2 separate regions of the Homo sapiens genome follow, and region 2 is linked to region 1. The links come from fine-mapping of genetic effects on gene expression. Tissue or cell type: whole blood. Region 1 holds a variant in brackets; the other region holds the start of a gene. All regions are shown on one strand. Distances are between the middles of the regions.

Region 1 (8,057 bases):
ATTTTTGTATTTTTATTACAGATGGGGTTTCACCATGTTGGCTGGACTGGTCTTGAACTCCAGACCTCAAGTGATCCGCTAGCCTTGGCATCCCAAAGTGCTGGAATTACAGGCATGAGCCACCGCACCCAGCCACCTGCTGCTTTTCCTGAGGGAACAGTCTCCTCTCACCCCTCTTCCACTGTTTTGGAGGGGTCTCAGTGAGGACTGATTCAGGTCTTCCAGCTGTCTCTTGCCCACAAAGGGACTGAAGCCCAGCAACAGCTTTTGCCCCCATGGCCAATCTCTTCACTGCCAGATATGCAGGCAGGAGGCCCAAGGCCTTTTGTTTGTGTGGAAGAGCTGACAGCTTCTAGTAGGGGTGGTTGACTCTTCAGTATTCCCATAAATAATGAGACTAAAAAGGTTAATGGGCCGGGCTGGTTCTTGAATTTTAAATTCTACATCTAAACACTAGAGGGCACCCTCCCACTCCATCCTAGGAAGGAAAAAGAGGAGAAACAGACAACAGTCCTGGAGAGGGCAAGTAAATGAGGCAGCCCTCTGCACCCCAGCAGAGACCACATCCTAGGTTCAAAAATGTAGGTGAAATGCAGGTGACAGGGGTGTTGGACTCTCCTGGTCCTCCATCCCTGAATGTCCTCACGCCCCCTTACTGCCATAGGTGGGAAGTCCTCTTTTGGCTCTAGCCTCAAACCCCAAACGGCCTTGGCCTTAATTCTCAGGGAAGAGAGGAATTATTAGGGAAAACCTGATTGGGAGAGGGACTGAGCCAAGGATGGAGGAAACCCATGTCTCAGGTAGGGCTGAGTTCGGGGCACCCCATGGAGCGAGAAGACAGGGAGGCCCCTGTGGTGTCACTACAGTTTGCGTGTATGAGACACTGAACTAGAAGGGGACGTCCTCGTATACTCAAGGAGGACCCACAGCTAATCCACATGTCACAGGCCCCTCAGCTTACCAGACTGCCTGATGACCTTCAGGACTTCAGCCTGGCTGTCCTCTTCTTCTTCCTCTTCTTCATCATCCTCCTCTTCCTCCTCATCTTCCTCTCTTGGATAACCCAGCTCCCGAAGCTCCCCCAGCTCATCCTCCTCCTCTGAGGCCTGGTTCTCATTCAAATTGCTGATAGACTGCAGGTGAGACTCAGCAATGCGCTGCACAGCTGGCACAGAGGAGACCGAGGAAAGCAAGGGTCAGCTAGACACAGCCCATGGATCTGGAGATAGCCTGTGGCCTAGCCCCCAGCCTCCTTCCCGTAGGCCTGGGGCAGAGAATACCCCCTCAGGGGCCCAAGTTCAAAGGCCAAAGTTGACAGGTCAGCCTGATGGGTGTCAGACCAGGGCAGAGGCAGCCAGGGGTAGATTTGATCATGTTTGGCTCTTAAGCTGTCCTAAGATGCTAGCCCCCAGGCAGCTCCCCCACACCATAGGGCACTAGGCTGGGCAAGACCAGGCGGGCACAGCAGCAGCTTAACATTCCCTGGCTGGAGAGCTTGATTTTCCAAGTACCCAGTACGGGAGACAGTGTCTCCCAGCTTCAAGCCCAGGCAGAAGGCACAGGGCGTAGGAACCAGGGCCTGGGGATTTGCCACTTTCCATTTCTTGGGGGTGCCCAGCCTGCTGAGGGCTCACTGCTTACCCTGATCCTACCTCCCATGCGATGCATAGTCCCCACTCCCTGGCACTGCCCAGTCATAGATGCCAATCCACATACTCCTGCCCCGGGCTCCAAGGGACAGAACAATTCCGAGGCTGAGGACATAATAGTCTGCAGCCAGTGCAGTCTGTGCCGGGGGATGCGGCATGCTCAGATGCGGCCCCCACAATCTTGACCCACATCCCCAGGTTCCCAGCTCCCTCTGCGGTGACCTAGAAAGCAACCCCCCCAGCCTCCAAAGACCTGCTCAGATAGGGCTGGGAAGGGAACAGTGTGGGCAGCTGGAGACAAGTTTCCAAAAGATGGAAAGGAGCAAGGGGTTAGAGAAAGGGGCCAAGGCCAGGGGTTCTGGGGGATGGCAGAGGTTGAGGGGCCACTGAGGAGAGGCTGCAGGAGCTGGCAGGATCTTAGAACATATGCGACACAAAGTTCACAGGCCACAGACAAGATGCTGAGGAGGGGCTGGGGGTGGGGAATGGGGAGTTGCTGCAGTTCCTTCTTGGTCTGCCAGTGGCCCCTCCCCTCAGAAGGCCCAGAGGGGTAGGGCCAGGCTGGAAACCTCCGGCACAGTGAGCAGGGTGCTATGCTCCTGCCAACTCGGGGACAGGCACAGAGGGTGCTTTGTATGTGCCCGCTGCCCCACCCAGCCCCCAGCTCCCAGCCCAGTACCTCCTGCTGGCTCTGGGCAAGCTATCCAGGCAATAAAAGCACAATAAATCACCCTACCCTGACCTTGGGGACGCGGCAGAGCTTCATCTTGAGCCAAGTGTGAGAGCTCCAGCCTTGGAGCACAACCCCTCAAGCTAAGACTTAGTGCTGTGCCCCTCTCTCTAGGGCCCTCGATTCTTCCCTGACAAGCCCCAACCCTGCCGGGCACCTTCCCTTGCCCACAAAAGGACTGAAGCCTACAAAACAGTGCCCTCCTGGTAGAGAAGGATCCATGAGGGCTGTGGGGGGAGGTAAGGCAGGAGAGCAGGTGGCAGCCCAGGCAGCTTCCTTCTCCCCCAGCGGGGGAGGAGAGTTCACTTCGTGAGCCACAGTGACAACAGAAGGTGTGTGCGGTGCTTGCGCTGGTGCCCCGTGAGCCTCCCTCGCTTCCCCCACCTCCCTCATGCCTCCTGGGCTCTCTGGGGTCTCCCCATCACTCCTTCCAGGCTGTCTCCTTCTCTGCCCCACTCTGTGGGGCCCCAAACTCCCCCCACCACAAGTCTTCCTTCTTCAGTTGGAAGGTCCCCAGCCTTGCCCCAGACTGGCCACCCCTCTCCTGATCCCTTTCCTCTTCCCTGCCTCTACTCACCTGGACTCTCCTAAGATGTGGCCTAAAGGGGCAGTTGAGGGGGTGCACAATTTTGACCACTGCACGGTGCATGGTAGCACCCTGGCCCTAACATCTTCATCCTGGCCTGTTCGCCCATGCTTGCAGTCAAGAGCCAGGTCTTCCCCTCACATCCACCCAGCCTCTCCCTACCCAGCCCAAGGTGGGAGGGAGAGGGATTTCTTAAATTCTCTCCTGAGAAGATGACACTCTGTCCCTCATGCCTGCTTTGGGGCCCTTCCACACACCCCTCTAGGTGGGGAGGTCCTTCCAGGTGCTGAGCCACACTGCCCACTTGCTGCAGCTCTGACCCTTCATTTTCCTGTCCTGGGGAAAGCAAAATAACCCCTTCCCTTCTCTCCTCCCTTCCCAGCCTCTCCTCTCTGTTCCCAACCCTGGCAAGTGGGCTGACAGGTATACCTGTTGACCTTGGCTGGTGCTGGGAACTTATTAAACCCTCCCCCGAACCACTTCCCAGCATACTCTTCCGGTAGCTCTCCCTCCCAACCTCCGCAGGAGCGGAGGGGGCTGGCCGGGCAGGAAGAGCCCCAGGCAGGAGTTGAGGTGGGGGGTTGGTAGGCAACAGGGCTTAGTCAGGAAGAGGCCCTCCTATGTCCTTCAGGTATATCTCCCCAGCTCCCTGACTAGAAACGAAGCCTCCTCCAGGTTGGCCCAGAAGTCCCCCTCTGACTCGCATCTCTTTCTCTTTGCACACCTTCTTCCCTCTTCTTGGACCTGGGATGCCCTTGCCTGCCTGTTAAATTCCTATGATCCTTCAAATCCAAGCTTAAACATCTTTGTGTACCTTCCTTGACCCTTTTCTTTTTTTATTTTTTCCCGAGACAGGCTCTCACTCTGTAGCCCAGACTGGAGCACAGTGGTGCGATCATAGCTCACTGCAGCCTCAAACTTCTGGGCTCAAGCAATCCTTGTGCCTTAGCCTCCCAAGTATCTGGGACTATAGGTGTGCACCTCTATGCTTAGCTCACTTTTTTTTTTTTCTTGAGACAGAGTTTTGCTCTTTTTGCCCAGACTGGAGTGCAATGGTGCGATCTCAGCTCACCACAACCTCTGCCTCCCGGGTTCAAGTGATTCTCCTGCCTCAGCCTCCTGAGTAGCTGAGATGACAGGCATGCGCTACCACGCCTGGCTAATTTTGTATTTTTAATAGAGACAGGATTTCTCCATGTTGGTCAGGCTGGTCTCAAACTCCTGACCTCAGGTGATCTGCCCGCCTCGGCCTCCCAAAGTGCTGGGATTACAGGCGTGAGTCAC[T/C]GCGCCCGGCCCGCTTAGCTCACTTTGTAAATTTTTCATAGAGATGGGGGTCTCACTGTATTGCCCAAGCTGGTCTCGAACTCCTAGGCTCAAGCAGTCCTCCCGCCTTGGCCTCCCAAAGTGCTGGGATTTCAGGTGTGAGCCACCTTACTTGGCCCCTCCCTGACCCTTTGAGGCAAAGAGCCCCAAGGGGGCAGGGACCAAATCTGACTCATCTTATTCTGCCCAATGCCCACCAACTTGGCCTGGCATATACTAGGTGTTGAGTAAGTGTGCAAAAGGAATGGCTTGCTTTTCCATGGAGAAAGGGAAGCAGGAAAGAGGAGACCAGTGTGCAGATCTGTGCAAATGGGATGCAAATGGGAGGGGAGGCCAGGGGTGAAGCCCACAGGAGAAGGCGCCCTGGATGAGCAGGGGTGGGAGGTGGTCCACCACAGGCTGGTGAAGAGGAGCTGCAGGTGGAGTCCCTTCCACGCGGATGCCTGCTGGTTGTCTTAGGCCAGCCATCTCTTTTCTTTCAAGCCCACAACCCGATGTTAAGGCCCATAGCTGCCCATTGCAGCCTCGGGACTCCTGTGTTTTGCAAGGCCAGACTGAGAAAAAATTGGTCTTTACGTTGGGTTGTTGCGCCACGCTGACAGCGGGCTATGTGTGGCGAAACAATCCCTCCCCACTGACAAAAGCTCCCCTAGCGTCTGCCCAGTTCCAGGGATCAGGCGGACAGCCAGGAAGGTCGGTGGGGGTATAGTACCTTTCAGCGAAGGTGGTGTGTAGGCACAGGGGTTGGGTCTCTTCGACTTGAGATGGTGCCCCTCTCCTGAGGCTCTCTGCCAGGGGAAGTGCCAGGTTAAAGGGGCTCAGCAGAGGCCCTTGCCTTCACCATCCCTCCATTCCATCCCACCCATGGCCACCCAAGCAGACTGATTTAGCCACTGCTAATGGGTCCTGCACCTAGGCTGAGCCTCCCCACCCTGTGGCTTTAGGGGGGGCCCCCCATAAGCCATGGCCTGGTTCAGGGCAGGACTCTAGGTCCAGGAGGTTCCACCCTGAGTCTGAGCAGAGGAGGATCTGCTGGTGGCACCCTGGCATGAGGCACTCTCAGAGGACTGCCCATTGATATGCTAATGTGTCCTCTTGGGTGGCACCCCATACTGGTTGGTTGTCACTGCAGGCACCCGTCCACCCCACCCCAAGGGGCCCAGGCATCCCTCCTTCCAGCTGCCCCAGGAAACTCACCTGGTGGGGGGAGGCTTCCTCCTCTGAGGAAGGCCACCAAAGCCAACCGAACCAGAACCAAGCGAGGAGGAAAAGAGAAGAGGGAGAGAGAGAAAGAATCCGAGTTATTTTCCCCAGGGTCTCAATCTCTGGGGACAGGGAAAGTGTGCCCTCTCCCTCCTGCGGCTGGGAGGTGTCATGTCAATAAATAAAGCCAATAGAGTTGGGTTCCCAGACCTTATCCACTCCCCAGTCTCCAGCTTTGACTCCTGTTCATGGGACTTTGGCAGGGCCCCTAGGAAGGCATCAGAGCTAGGGTGGGGCCAGGGCTAAGTGGGCAGGGAGGGGCCTACCTGGTGAGGAGTGCTCTGAGAGCCGGAACAGCATGGCAGGCGTTGGTCTCCTGCGCCGGATCTAAGGAGATGGAGGGAGGGGTGACTGGATGGACACCTGCAGCCCTCCCCCACCCCCAGGCAGCAGGGAACAAACAGTGCTTTGGAGTCCCCAGGGAACCTTTGAATCAAAGTCTGTCAGAGCCAAAAGGAACTCTGTAGCTCACCTAACCCCCTCATTTTACAGAGGTGAAAAAGCAGGGCTCAGAGAGATTTGGCAATGTGCTTAAGGCCACACAGCACAACAAGTCCAAAGGACGAGAAAAACCCCAGTCACTGACTCCCAGCCCATGCCTGTCCCACTCCATGGCTACTCCAGAACAGACATCTCCCTTCCTATCTTCTCCCACCAAGGCCCTTCCTCTCTCCAGTTTCTGAAAACATCAGACCTCGGAAGCCAAAGCTGGCTACAGCTCCAGCTGCCACGGCTGGGCCCTCTGGGGAAGATGCCCCACGGGCCATGGCACCCATGTGGCCCTGCCCACCTAAGATCAGCTCAAGGGCTTCAAACAAGCTGGATCCAGCTTTTCAGAAGGAGACTGAGCCAGCGCACTGCAGGCACCCCCCACCTCCAGCTGAGGCTCAGGGACCCAAAGGGGCCTGGGGGACCTCTCTGGGGGCCTTGGTTTGGGCTTCTTTTCCAGTCTCTGTAAGGCTGCAGAACTCTTCACCCAGTCCTTGTGAGAAATGAAAAGTTGCCCTCCTTGCTACGTGAGCCAAGCAGCAACTGACCGCCCCCCTCCCCGCCCCGCCCCTCAGCTTGGCAATCAGACCAACTGTCAGTTAATTAGGTCCCTGTTGAGCTCCAGGGAAATGCACAAAGAGAACCAGGTGAGTTAAGCTGAAACTGCCACCTCCCCAGCCAAGCTCCCCATGACACCCTCATGACCCAAAGCTGCTTAGGCCCAGGACTGTACCCCCTGCCCTCTATCTCCCCCCATAATGACTTGGCCCCCTCATCACTGCTCAGTGGGGAGCCAGCTGCATCTCAGCTCAGCAACAAGTGACCCCTGCTCCACTAGGGATGGGAAGTGGAGCTCTCTGTCACAGCACCCGCCAGCCTTTGGAAGCCCCTCAACCCCCAAGAAGGCCCTCAGGAGGACTCAGTAGTCTGTGGGAAGAGGTCTGGCTTTGTGATGACTCCCCACCTCTCCCTCCTTGGGGTTGGGGCTCTGGGGCCTGACAGCAGGAGGCCAGAGCCAGGTTCTGGAGACCCCAGCCCAGGCACACACGCGGGATTAGAGAGGGGCAGGGTAGTGGATTCACCCGGTGGCAGCCTCATACTCCTGCCCTGGGTGACAAGGTCAGTGTCCACCGCTGCTCACATCTGACCAGCTCTGGGACAGAGCCAGGCGGAGCGGTCCCGGTGGTAGCCTAGGAGACTGACTACCCTTTGGGGACTGTGCTGGGACCAAAGGACGCCCCCACCCCACTCCTGGGCGGTCTGGAATCGGCCTGTCCCCCCACCCCCGCACCCCCAGCCTCACTGCCAGGAACTCTCTTGCCCCGGGATCAGGACCAAAGCCGCGGGGAAAAGTTGCACGAGTCTCCAGCTAACTTCACACGCGGCCCCGCGCCCCGTCCTGACCGAGGCAGAGCCCGGCTCTCCTTGCGCCCCCACCCCCAGGCCAGTCCGGCCGGGGCAGCGCCTTGGGAGGGCGAAGAAGCCCCGCGGGGTGTGTCGGGTACGCTGCCGGGGTGGGGCACGGGCCCCTTACCATCTCCACCTGGCGGGGGTCGAGCTGGCTAGGGGGCGCGGGCACCGAGAACTGGATCTTCTTGCGGTCCTTGGGGTCCATGGCGCGCGGGGTGGGCGGTGGGGCTGGGGTGCGCGACTCGGGGTCCCGGCGGCGGTCTGTGCTGGGCTCCCCCGCGCAGGCGGCGGGCTGTGCGGCGAGAGGAGGAGGAGGGCTGTTCGCGCACGGATAAAAATACCGTGCCCGCCGAGGGGAGGGCGCGGGAGCGGGAGGAGGGTCGGCGCCCGGGCTGGGCGCGCCCCCAGGCTCTCGGGACTCGGGGCTCGCCCCCCGCGCTCGCTGAGCCAGGTCTGTGCCTCGCTCCCTCGCGCTCCCCGGCCTGGGTGTCTCTGCGTCTCGGTGTCTCTCCCCTCCTGAGTGTCTCTGCGTCTCGGTGTCTCTCCCCTCCTGAGTGTCTCTGCGTGTCTCCTCTCTCTGCCTCTCCCGTCCTTCTCCACCTCCCTC
Region 2 (8,057 bases), 57 kb before region 1:
AGTGTTCCTTACTTCCCTATTGATCAGGCACATAGTCCCACTTCCCACCAGAGGCAAGAACTATTTCCACTTTCTTTTTTATCTTTCTAGATATATTCTCAAAAATAACAACCATAATACTACGCGCATAACACGTACCCTTATTTTTCTTCACATGGGGTACTGTATATAAGTGTATAGGTGTACATACACATGCATACACACACACATATTTTGTTCTGCACTGTGCACTTGATACTTATCAAAAATATTTGGCCAGGTGTGATGGCTCATGCCTATAATCCCAGCACTTTGGGAGGCTGAGACAGGTGGATCACCTGAGGTCGGGAGTTCAAGACAGCCTTACCAACATGGTGAAGCCCTGTCTCTACTAAAAAATACAAAAATTAGCCGGATGTGGTGGCACACACCTGTAATCCCAGCTACTCGGGAGGCTGAGACACAAGAGATATATATATATATATATATATATGTATATGTATATGTATATGTATATGTATATATATCTATATCTATATCTATATCTATATCTATATCTATCATGAAGGTTTTACCATGCTAGTACATTACAAATCTGCCCCATTCCTATTAATTTCTGTTCAGCCTTCCATTGTATGGCTCTCCCTCCATTAATATAATTCATTCCCTATTGATGGACATTTAGTTGTTTCCTTTTTCTTCTTGCTATTGAAAACAATGACTAATGCTACCACAAATAACTGTACTTAAACAAATTTGCACTTGTTTAGGTATACTGGAGCTTATGTAGGTATACCTAGGAGTGAAATTCCTGGGTTAGAGGGTATGTGTGTGTGTGTGTGTGTGTGTGTGTATATATATATATATATATTTTTTTTTTTAATGTAGATGGAGTCTCGCTCTGTCACCAGGCTGGAGTGCAGTGGCATAATCCAGGCTCACTGCAACCTCCAACTCCCTGGTTCAAGCAATTCTCCTGCCTCAGCTTCCGGAGTAGCTGGGATTACAGGCACGTGCCACCATGCCCAGCTAATTTTTTTGTATTTTTAGTAGAGATGGGGTTTCACCATGTTGGCTAGGATGGTCTCGATCTCCTGATCTCATGATCCGCCTGCCTTGGCCTCCCACAGTGCTGGGATTACAGATGTGAGCCACCGCACCTGGCTTCAGTCTTTTGTTTGACACTTGTTTATGGCCTGTTTCCCTCCTCTGACCATGAAAAGTACAGTGCCTTGTTCATCACTCTGTTCCCAGAGACTTGCACATGGTAAACTTAATAAACATTTGATGAATAAGGAACCCACATTGTAGACTCTCTACCAATTTTGATCTAAGAACATGGTCAGCTTGCCGTTGAGCCTTTAGCACACTATACTTTTTTTTTTTTTTTTGAAACGGAGTTTTGCTCTTGTTGCCCAGGCTGGAGTGCAATGGCACGATCTCAGGAGTTTCTCCATGTTAGGTCAGGCTGGTCTCGAACTCCTGACCTCAGATGATCCACCTGCCTCGCCCTCCCAAAGTGCTGGGATTACAGGCATGAGCCACTGTGCCTGTCCAGCACACTCTACTATTAACATATGCTTTGTCTTTTTTTTCCCCCATGAGTACAATGGCTGATACACAGGAGGACTCAATAAGCCTGAGTTGAAGGAATGAATTAGTGACTTTTCAGACTGTGGATCACATCTGAAGCCAAATACAAGTTAGGAAGAAGGACAAGCTAAGGAGGCTCAGGGGAGAACTAGGGGCTCCAGGCTAGAAAGTTGGGAAGAGAGGCCAGGTAATCGCCATCTAGAGATTGTTATCTGGGGCTGTGCTGGCAGGGAAATTCTCAAGAGCTGTCCCAGAGAGACAGTACCCCATCTTCCAAGAAGTCAACAGAACAGAAGTCTCTACTCCCACTTCCACCATTAACCTAGGATTGCTTTTTCCATCAGGTATGTAGGCATGGGTTTTCAAGGACCTCTGAAATACTTTAGACCCGAACAAATTTCCATTGTTAGTTCTAAAATATAAGAAAGCTGCGAAAATTAATATTTTATGGCCGTGTGGCATGGCTCACGCCCGTAATCCCAGCACTTTGGGAGGTTGAGGCGGGAGGATCACTCGAGCCCAGGAATTGGAGACCAGTCTAGGCAACATAGCAAGACCGTGTCTCTACAAAAAATTAAAAAAATTAGCAGGGCATAGTGGCGCATGCTGCAGTCCCAGCTACTCAGGAGGCTGAGATGGAAGGATCACTTGAGTCTGGGAGGTTGAGGTTGCAGTGAGTCGTGATCATGCCACTGCACTTCAGTCTAGGTGAAAGAGTGAGAGGCTGTCTGGGAAAAAAAATTTTTTTTAACTAAATGTATATAAATGTAGCAATATGTCAACTATTAACAGCAATTAGATTGAATTATATATATGTATAGTTATTTATAAATCTTATTTAATGTGGGGCGTTACTGCATTTCAGTATGTTTGACATAATATAGGATGAGGCCTTCAAAATTGGAATTTTCTTTTTCTTTTTTTTTTTTTTTTTGAGTTTCGCTCTTGTTGCCCAGGCTGGAGTGCGATGGCGCAATCTTGGCTCACCACAACCTCTGCCTCCCTGGGTTCAAGCGATTCTCCTGCCTCAGCCTCCTGAGTAGCTGGGATTACAGGCATGCACCACCACACCCAACTAATTTTGTATTTTTAGTAGAGATGGGGTTTCTCCATGTTGGTCAGGCTGGTCTCAAACTCCTAACCTCAGGTGATCCGTCCGCCTCGGCCTCCCAAAGTGCTGGGATTACAGGCGTGAGCCACCACCCCCAGCCTTACTTAGGAATTTTCTAAAGGGGAGACTCCCTATTTTGTCAGGATTTCATCCTCTTTAATCCTAAATGTCCATCTTTATATGAGGATCCTCATAAAAAGACTCATCCCAGAGTCACAGAAAGGACAAAATGAAATGAAAAAAGAAAAAAAAACAGTATTGTAAAAGAACTAATCTGTAAGATGCAAAGTAGTATTAGCACTGGATTTCCGGTCAGCTCCTGGAGGGCTAAGGGGTTGTTTTGTTCATTTCAGCTTCTCAGTCAGTATCAGTTGGGTGGTCAACTCCAGGGGACACTATTCATGTTATATTTAACTGGAAGAATTTGCCATTCACAGAAAAGGCAATGTGAATGCTGCTCCCCAGAGCACCATTCACAGAAAATGCAATGTGAATGGTGCCTCCTGGAGATTTTGCCTTGCTTAGCAAGGTGCTAGAGCTAAGGACTCAGAAATGTTTGTTAAGTGAGTGAATGGAATCCCAGGCTACTTCTTACTCATTCCAACCCCCAGGACGAAAAAGAAAAGTTGACAAGGGGTGAGGAGAGTGGGGGAGGAGAAAGGGTGATCCTTAGCTACAAGGCTTCTATGAGATTGGGTGTGGGTCGGTGCTGATGGGAGTGCAGGGGAGGTGAGCAGGGAGAGGATACTAAAGCAAGCGTCCTGTTCCCAGGGTTCCTAATTTTCCTAGAAATATTACTTCTCTCCGATCTCAGTGCAGAACCATACTGATGATTTTACAGCCCTGGATTTGTCAAGTTCTTATGTTGATGTATGCTGTTCATTCATTAAACAGAAGAACAAACAAACGCAGTTAGCGCCTACCATAAGCCAAATTCTGTGCTGGAGGTAGAGTGGTGAACAGGACAGCAAAGGTTCTACCCCGCATGGGGAAGCAATCACCCTCGGGAGGTGGTACTTCAATTGCGACTAGAAGAAAAAAGAAGAGTGAGTGATTCAGACCAGGCCAGGCAGTCAGGAAGCTTGAGGGACATAGCCCTCTGAAGCGGGTCTGGAGCAAGGGAGTGAGGGAGACCAGTGGACAGGGGCCAAATCAGGCAGGGTTTGTGGAGACTGTATTTTACCCAAGGTAATTGGGAGCCAGTAAATAATTTTAAGAAAAAAAAAGTGATATGGGCAAATTTTAATTTTTCAAAATGGAGCGCAGGTTGGAAGAGGCAAAAGTAGAGGCAGGGAGAGCCATTAAGAAGCTACTGCGGCTGTCTTGGCGACACATGATGGTGTCTTTAACCAGGGTGGTGCCAGAAGAGATGGAGAGAAGTGGATAGTTACAGGTACGTTTAGGAAGTAAAATCCGACAGGGGTGGTGACAGTAAACAGCCCTACCTCAAAAAAGATCATGGAAAACACTTCAGTTTGCTCATTAACCCATCAGGCGTCCGCCTTCCCTTAACCCTATCGCCTCGATATATGGACACAGCAGGGGGACGAGGGGCGGGGCAGGCGCCCACAAAAATCCGGGAACTTTAATTTAAACTGTGTGGACTTCAGCGGAGAGTAGAATAAAGAACACAGGAACTTCCGGTTACTCCGGAAGTGGAAGCTTCATACTCCTAAGCTCCTCCCCCGGCGGCGAGCCAGGGAGAAAGGATGGCCGGCCTGGCGGCGCGGTTGGTCCTGCTAGCTGGGGCAGCGGCGCTGGCGAGCGGCTCCCAGGGCGACCGTGAGCCGGTGTACCGCGACTGCGTACTGCAGTGCGAAGAGCAGAACTGCTCTGGGGGCGCTCTGAATCACTTCCGCTCCCGCCAGCCAATCTACATGAGTCTAGCAGGTAAGCCCCACCCCCACGGTAAGCCCCGCCCATTTGTCTTGCTCCCGCCCCCTGCGCCCCCAATACGCCTCTGCAATCCCTGAACCTTAGTTTCCCCACGAGGTCTCTTATGAATGTGAGTGAAGCCCCTAAGGTGATGAGAGCCTTACCAGCCTCTCTTACTTTCCCAGAAGCTTTCATTTACTTATTTGTTCAGTCAAAAGGGTATTTATTAAATACATTCGGGCCACAATGTCTAGGAATGGCACAGAAATCAGACCAGGGTCCCGCCCATTGGGACTCACAGTCCCCACGGGGACATGAGCCTTTTCAAGTGCAAGGCAGAGAATGATTTGAGCCCCTGAAAGACTCTTTGATTAGGAAGCATTTGGGATAGGAAGGTGTCAGTTCCGGCTTTGAAGACGTGGGGGCAGGGATCATCTTGGAACGTTTTGTTTGAAGGAGGGACTTTGGACTGGTACATTCGATTTGGACCATAGTGGGCAAAGAACCAACGTATTGAGCACTCACTGTGTGACAGGTGTCACAATATGTCAAGTAATTTTTATCACACCCTTTGAGATAGTTTCTCTAATCCCAGTTTTACAGATGGGGATTAGAGAGATTAAATGCCCTGCCCAAGGTCACACAGCCAGTATGTAGTAAAGTGGAGTTTCCAGTTCTGGCCTGTTTGACCACAAGCTTGTCCTCTTTACTATTATACCACTTTGCATTCCAGACAGAGGGAACAGAGAGAATGGATGCCCTGGGCAGATGTGGGCACATCCAGGAGCTTTATTTACTCAGGGAGCAGGGTACATGAACAGGAGTAGTGACCAATACGGTTGGAAAGGCAATTTGGAGCCTCAAAAGTCAGGTTGAAGAATTTGGGCTTCATTTTCATAGGAAGGGAGTAAGATAGCAAGAACTCCTTCCAGGAGAGTAAGAGCAAATCCTATATTCAGGAAGGACAAATATAAACCCAGGTTTCCATAGATGAGTTCATCAGATGCCAACATCTTGATGGACTTGAGCAAAAGGAGAGGAAATGTCTGCCAAGGTAGAAAGATCATCTGAGCCCTGGAGTTCAAGACTAGCCTAGGCAACATGACAAGATGCCTTCTCTACAAAAAATAAAAGAATTAGCCAGACATTGTGGTCTCGCTACTTGGGAGGCTGAGGTGGGAGGATCGTTTGAGCCCAGGAGGTCAAGGCTGTGGTGAGCCATGCTCTCCCCACTGCACTCCAGCCTGGATGAAAGAGCGAGACCCTGTCTCAAAAAAAAAAAAAAAAAAAAAATGCCGGGTGCGGTGGCTCGTGCCTGCAATCCCCGCACTTTAGGTGGCAGAGGCAGGCAGATAACCTGAGGTTGGGAGTTCAAGACCACCCTGACCAACATGGAGAAACCCCATCTCTACTAAAAATACAAAATTAGTTGGGTGTGGTGGTGCATGCCTGTAATCCCAGCTACTCGGGAGCCTGAGGCAGGAGAATCGCTTGAACCCAGGAGGCGGAGGTTGCAGTGAACCGAGATCGCACCATTGCACTCCAGCCTGGGCAACAAAAACAAAACTGTCTCAAAAAAACAAACAAAAAAAAGACGAATATCTCTAATTGCTCACTAAAATATGCATACATACGTACATACACCTTCCCCTATGTGTACATCTCATCATCTCTCATTCATTCAAAGGGGAAGCTAGAATTTTGAGATTTCTCCTGGTTCTCTCCAACTTACAGGCCCTCTTGGCCTACATTTGCGCTTGGACCCCATTCATGCTCTCTCTTTCCTCTCTGTGCTGGGGAGTTCACCAGGCCACATTTGTCTGTTTCAGGCTGGACCTGTCGGGACGACTGTAAGTATGAGTGTATGTGGGTCACCGTTGGGCTCTACCTCCAGGAAGGTCACAAAGTGCCTCAGTTCCATGGCAAGGTGAGTTGGAGGGTCAGGGTAGGCATATGGTAGTAGCGTGGTAGGAGTAATATACCCCCTGGTTGGACCACACTGTCCAAGCAGTCTGAGGCATGGGGTAATGCGTGTGTGTTTGGGGCAGCTACCTGTTCTCCCCAAAATCTGCTGGTTTCCATAGAATTGGATAGGACCCATGTGTCCTGCCTCTGGATTTGGAGTAGCAATATCTGGAAGGCTTTGGAGTCTCCCCAGAGAGTGGTGCTGGGCCTCTTAGAGTGGTTGAGATGCCCACCTTACTGCAGGGACAAATTCCCTTACCTACTGTGGCTTGTTTCCTGTTGCTTCTCCAGTAGGGGTCTGGATTCACAGTAATATGCTTCAGCTTGTCTAGCGAGGCACAGTTTGCTGGTACCTTTCTTTCTTTTGTTTTTTGTTTTTTGTTTTTTTTTTTGAGATGGAGTCTCCCTCTGTCGCCCAGGCTGGAGTGCAGTGGCATGATCTTGGCTCACTGCAACCTCTACCTCCCAGGTTCAAGCAATTCTCATGCCTGAGCCTCCCAAGTAGCTGGGACTACAGGTGTGTGCCACCACACCCAGCTAATTTTTTGTATTTTTTTTTTTTTTTTTTTAAGTAGAGATGGGGTTTCACCATGTTAGCCAGGATGGTCTCAATCTCCTGACCTTGTGACCCTCTCGCCTCAGCTTCCCAAAGTGCTGGGATTACAGGCGTGAGCCACCGCGCCTGGCCTGCTGGTACGTTTCAATCCAGTATTATCTCATTCTGGCCTGTTGAGGTTGGCAGGAAGTATTCACCCCAGTTTTTCACAGAGTAAGCTGAGGCTCAAAGGACCGTGGTCAGTGGTAGAGGAGGGGTTGGGACCTGTGTCTTCTGGATGGCAACTCTGTGCTGTTTCCACCAGGCCATACTGAGTCATCTACCCTGACCCATCTGGTCTTCCCAGAGATCAGGGCTTACAGTGCTGTGCCTGCTGGCCAGGATGGGGGTATAACTCTTAACTAGGCACTGGAGGGTGGCTCATTAGTCTGAAGAGGTACTGAACCTGAGGCTTTGGCCAAACTCCAGAGCTGAGGACTCAGCTGAGGACCTGTTGCTTCAGCATGTCAAGAATAGGTGGACTGGGCCAGTTGAGGGTTGCCTGCCCTTCAAACCTCCTTCATCTGCTCCTTTTTCAGTGGCCCTTCTCCCGGTTCCTGTTCTTTCAAGAGCCGGCATCGGCCGTGGCCTCGTTTCTCAATGGCCTGGCCAGCCTGGTGATGCTCTGCCGCTACCGCACCTTCGTGCCAGCCTCCTCCCCCATGTACCACACCTGTGTGGCCTTCGCCTGGGTAGGTAACCTAGCAGGACTCCTGCTGTCTCCTCTTATCTAGGAAGGTGGAGCTCTACATCCCTATTAACACCCAACAGGGCTTCTACTTACCAGCTTCCCCTCTGTTTCCCAGGGCTAAAGTTGCAGCTGCAGGGTGGTAAAGCCTGGGGAGAAAACAGGGAGGGTGCTGAATCGGGCCTTACCTTTCCAGCAGAGCCCTAGGTCAGGCTGTTTGGGAAGGAGAGAGGAAAGAAGGGCATTTTTCT

What was found. PIP is the estimated chance that this variant, and not a neighbour inherited with it, causes the effect.
Region 2: PGAP3 starts here. The variant in region 1 is fine-mapped to the expression of PGAP3 in whole blood (TOPMed, PIP 0.92).

The regions. Positions count from the first base shown.
Region 1 is chr17:39,626,991-39,635,047 of GRCh38, reverse strand. It overlaps PPP1R1B (protein phosphatase 1 regulatory inhibitor subunit 1B), which reads right to left. Exons shown (of 7, transcript NM_032192.4): 1 at 7,575-8,057; 2 at 5,818-5,878; 3 at 5,486-5,508; 4 at 5,001-5,076; 5 at 962-1,165. The coding sequence starts at 7,655. LOC124903998 (a long non-coding RNA gene) reads left to right here. Exons shown (of 2, transcript XR_007065749.1): 2 at 22-410. Among named protein-coding and RNA genes, the nearest start is that of PPP1R1B, 4.1 kb to the right of the region's middle. RefSeq lists enhancers at 1,847-2,766, 2,767-3,686. The variant T/C (reference allele first, on the strand shown) is at 4,250.
Region 2 is chr17:39,684,350-39,692,406 of GRCh38, reverse strand. PGAP3 (post-GPI attachment to proteins phospholipase 3) reads left to right here and starts at 4,350. Exons shown (of 8, transcript NM_033419.5): 1 at 4,350-4,573; 2 at 6,388-6,485; 3 at 7,658-7,810. The coding sequence starts at 4,393. It also overlaps a transcript of ERBB2 not described here. RefSeq lists a silencer at 2,977-3,271 and enhancers at 2,551-3,511, 4,222-4,331.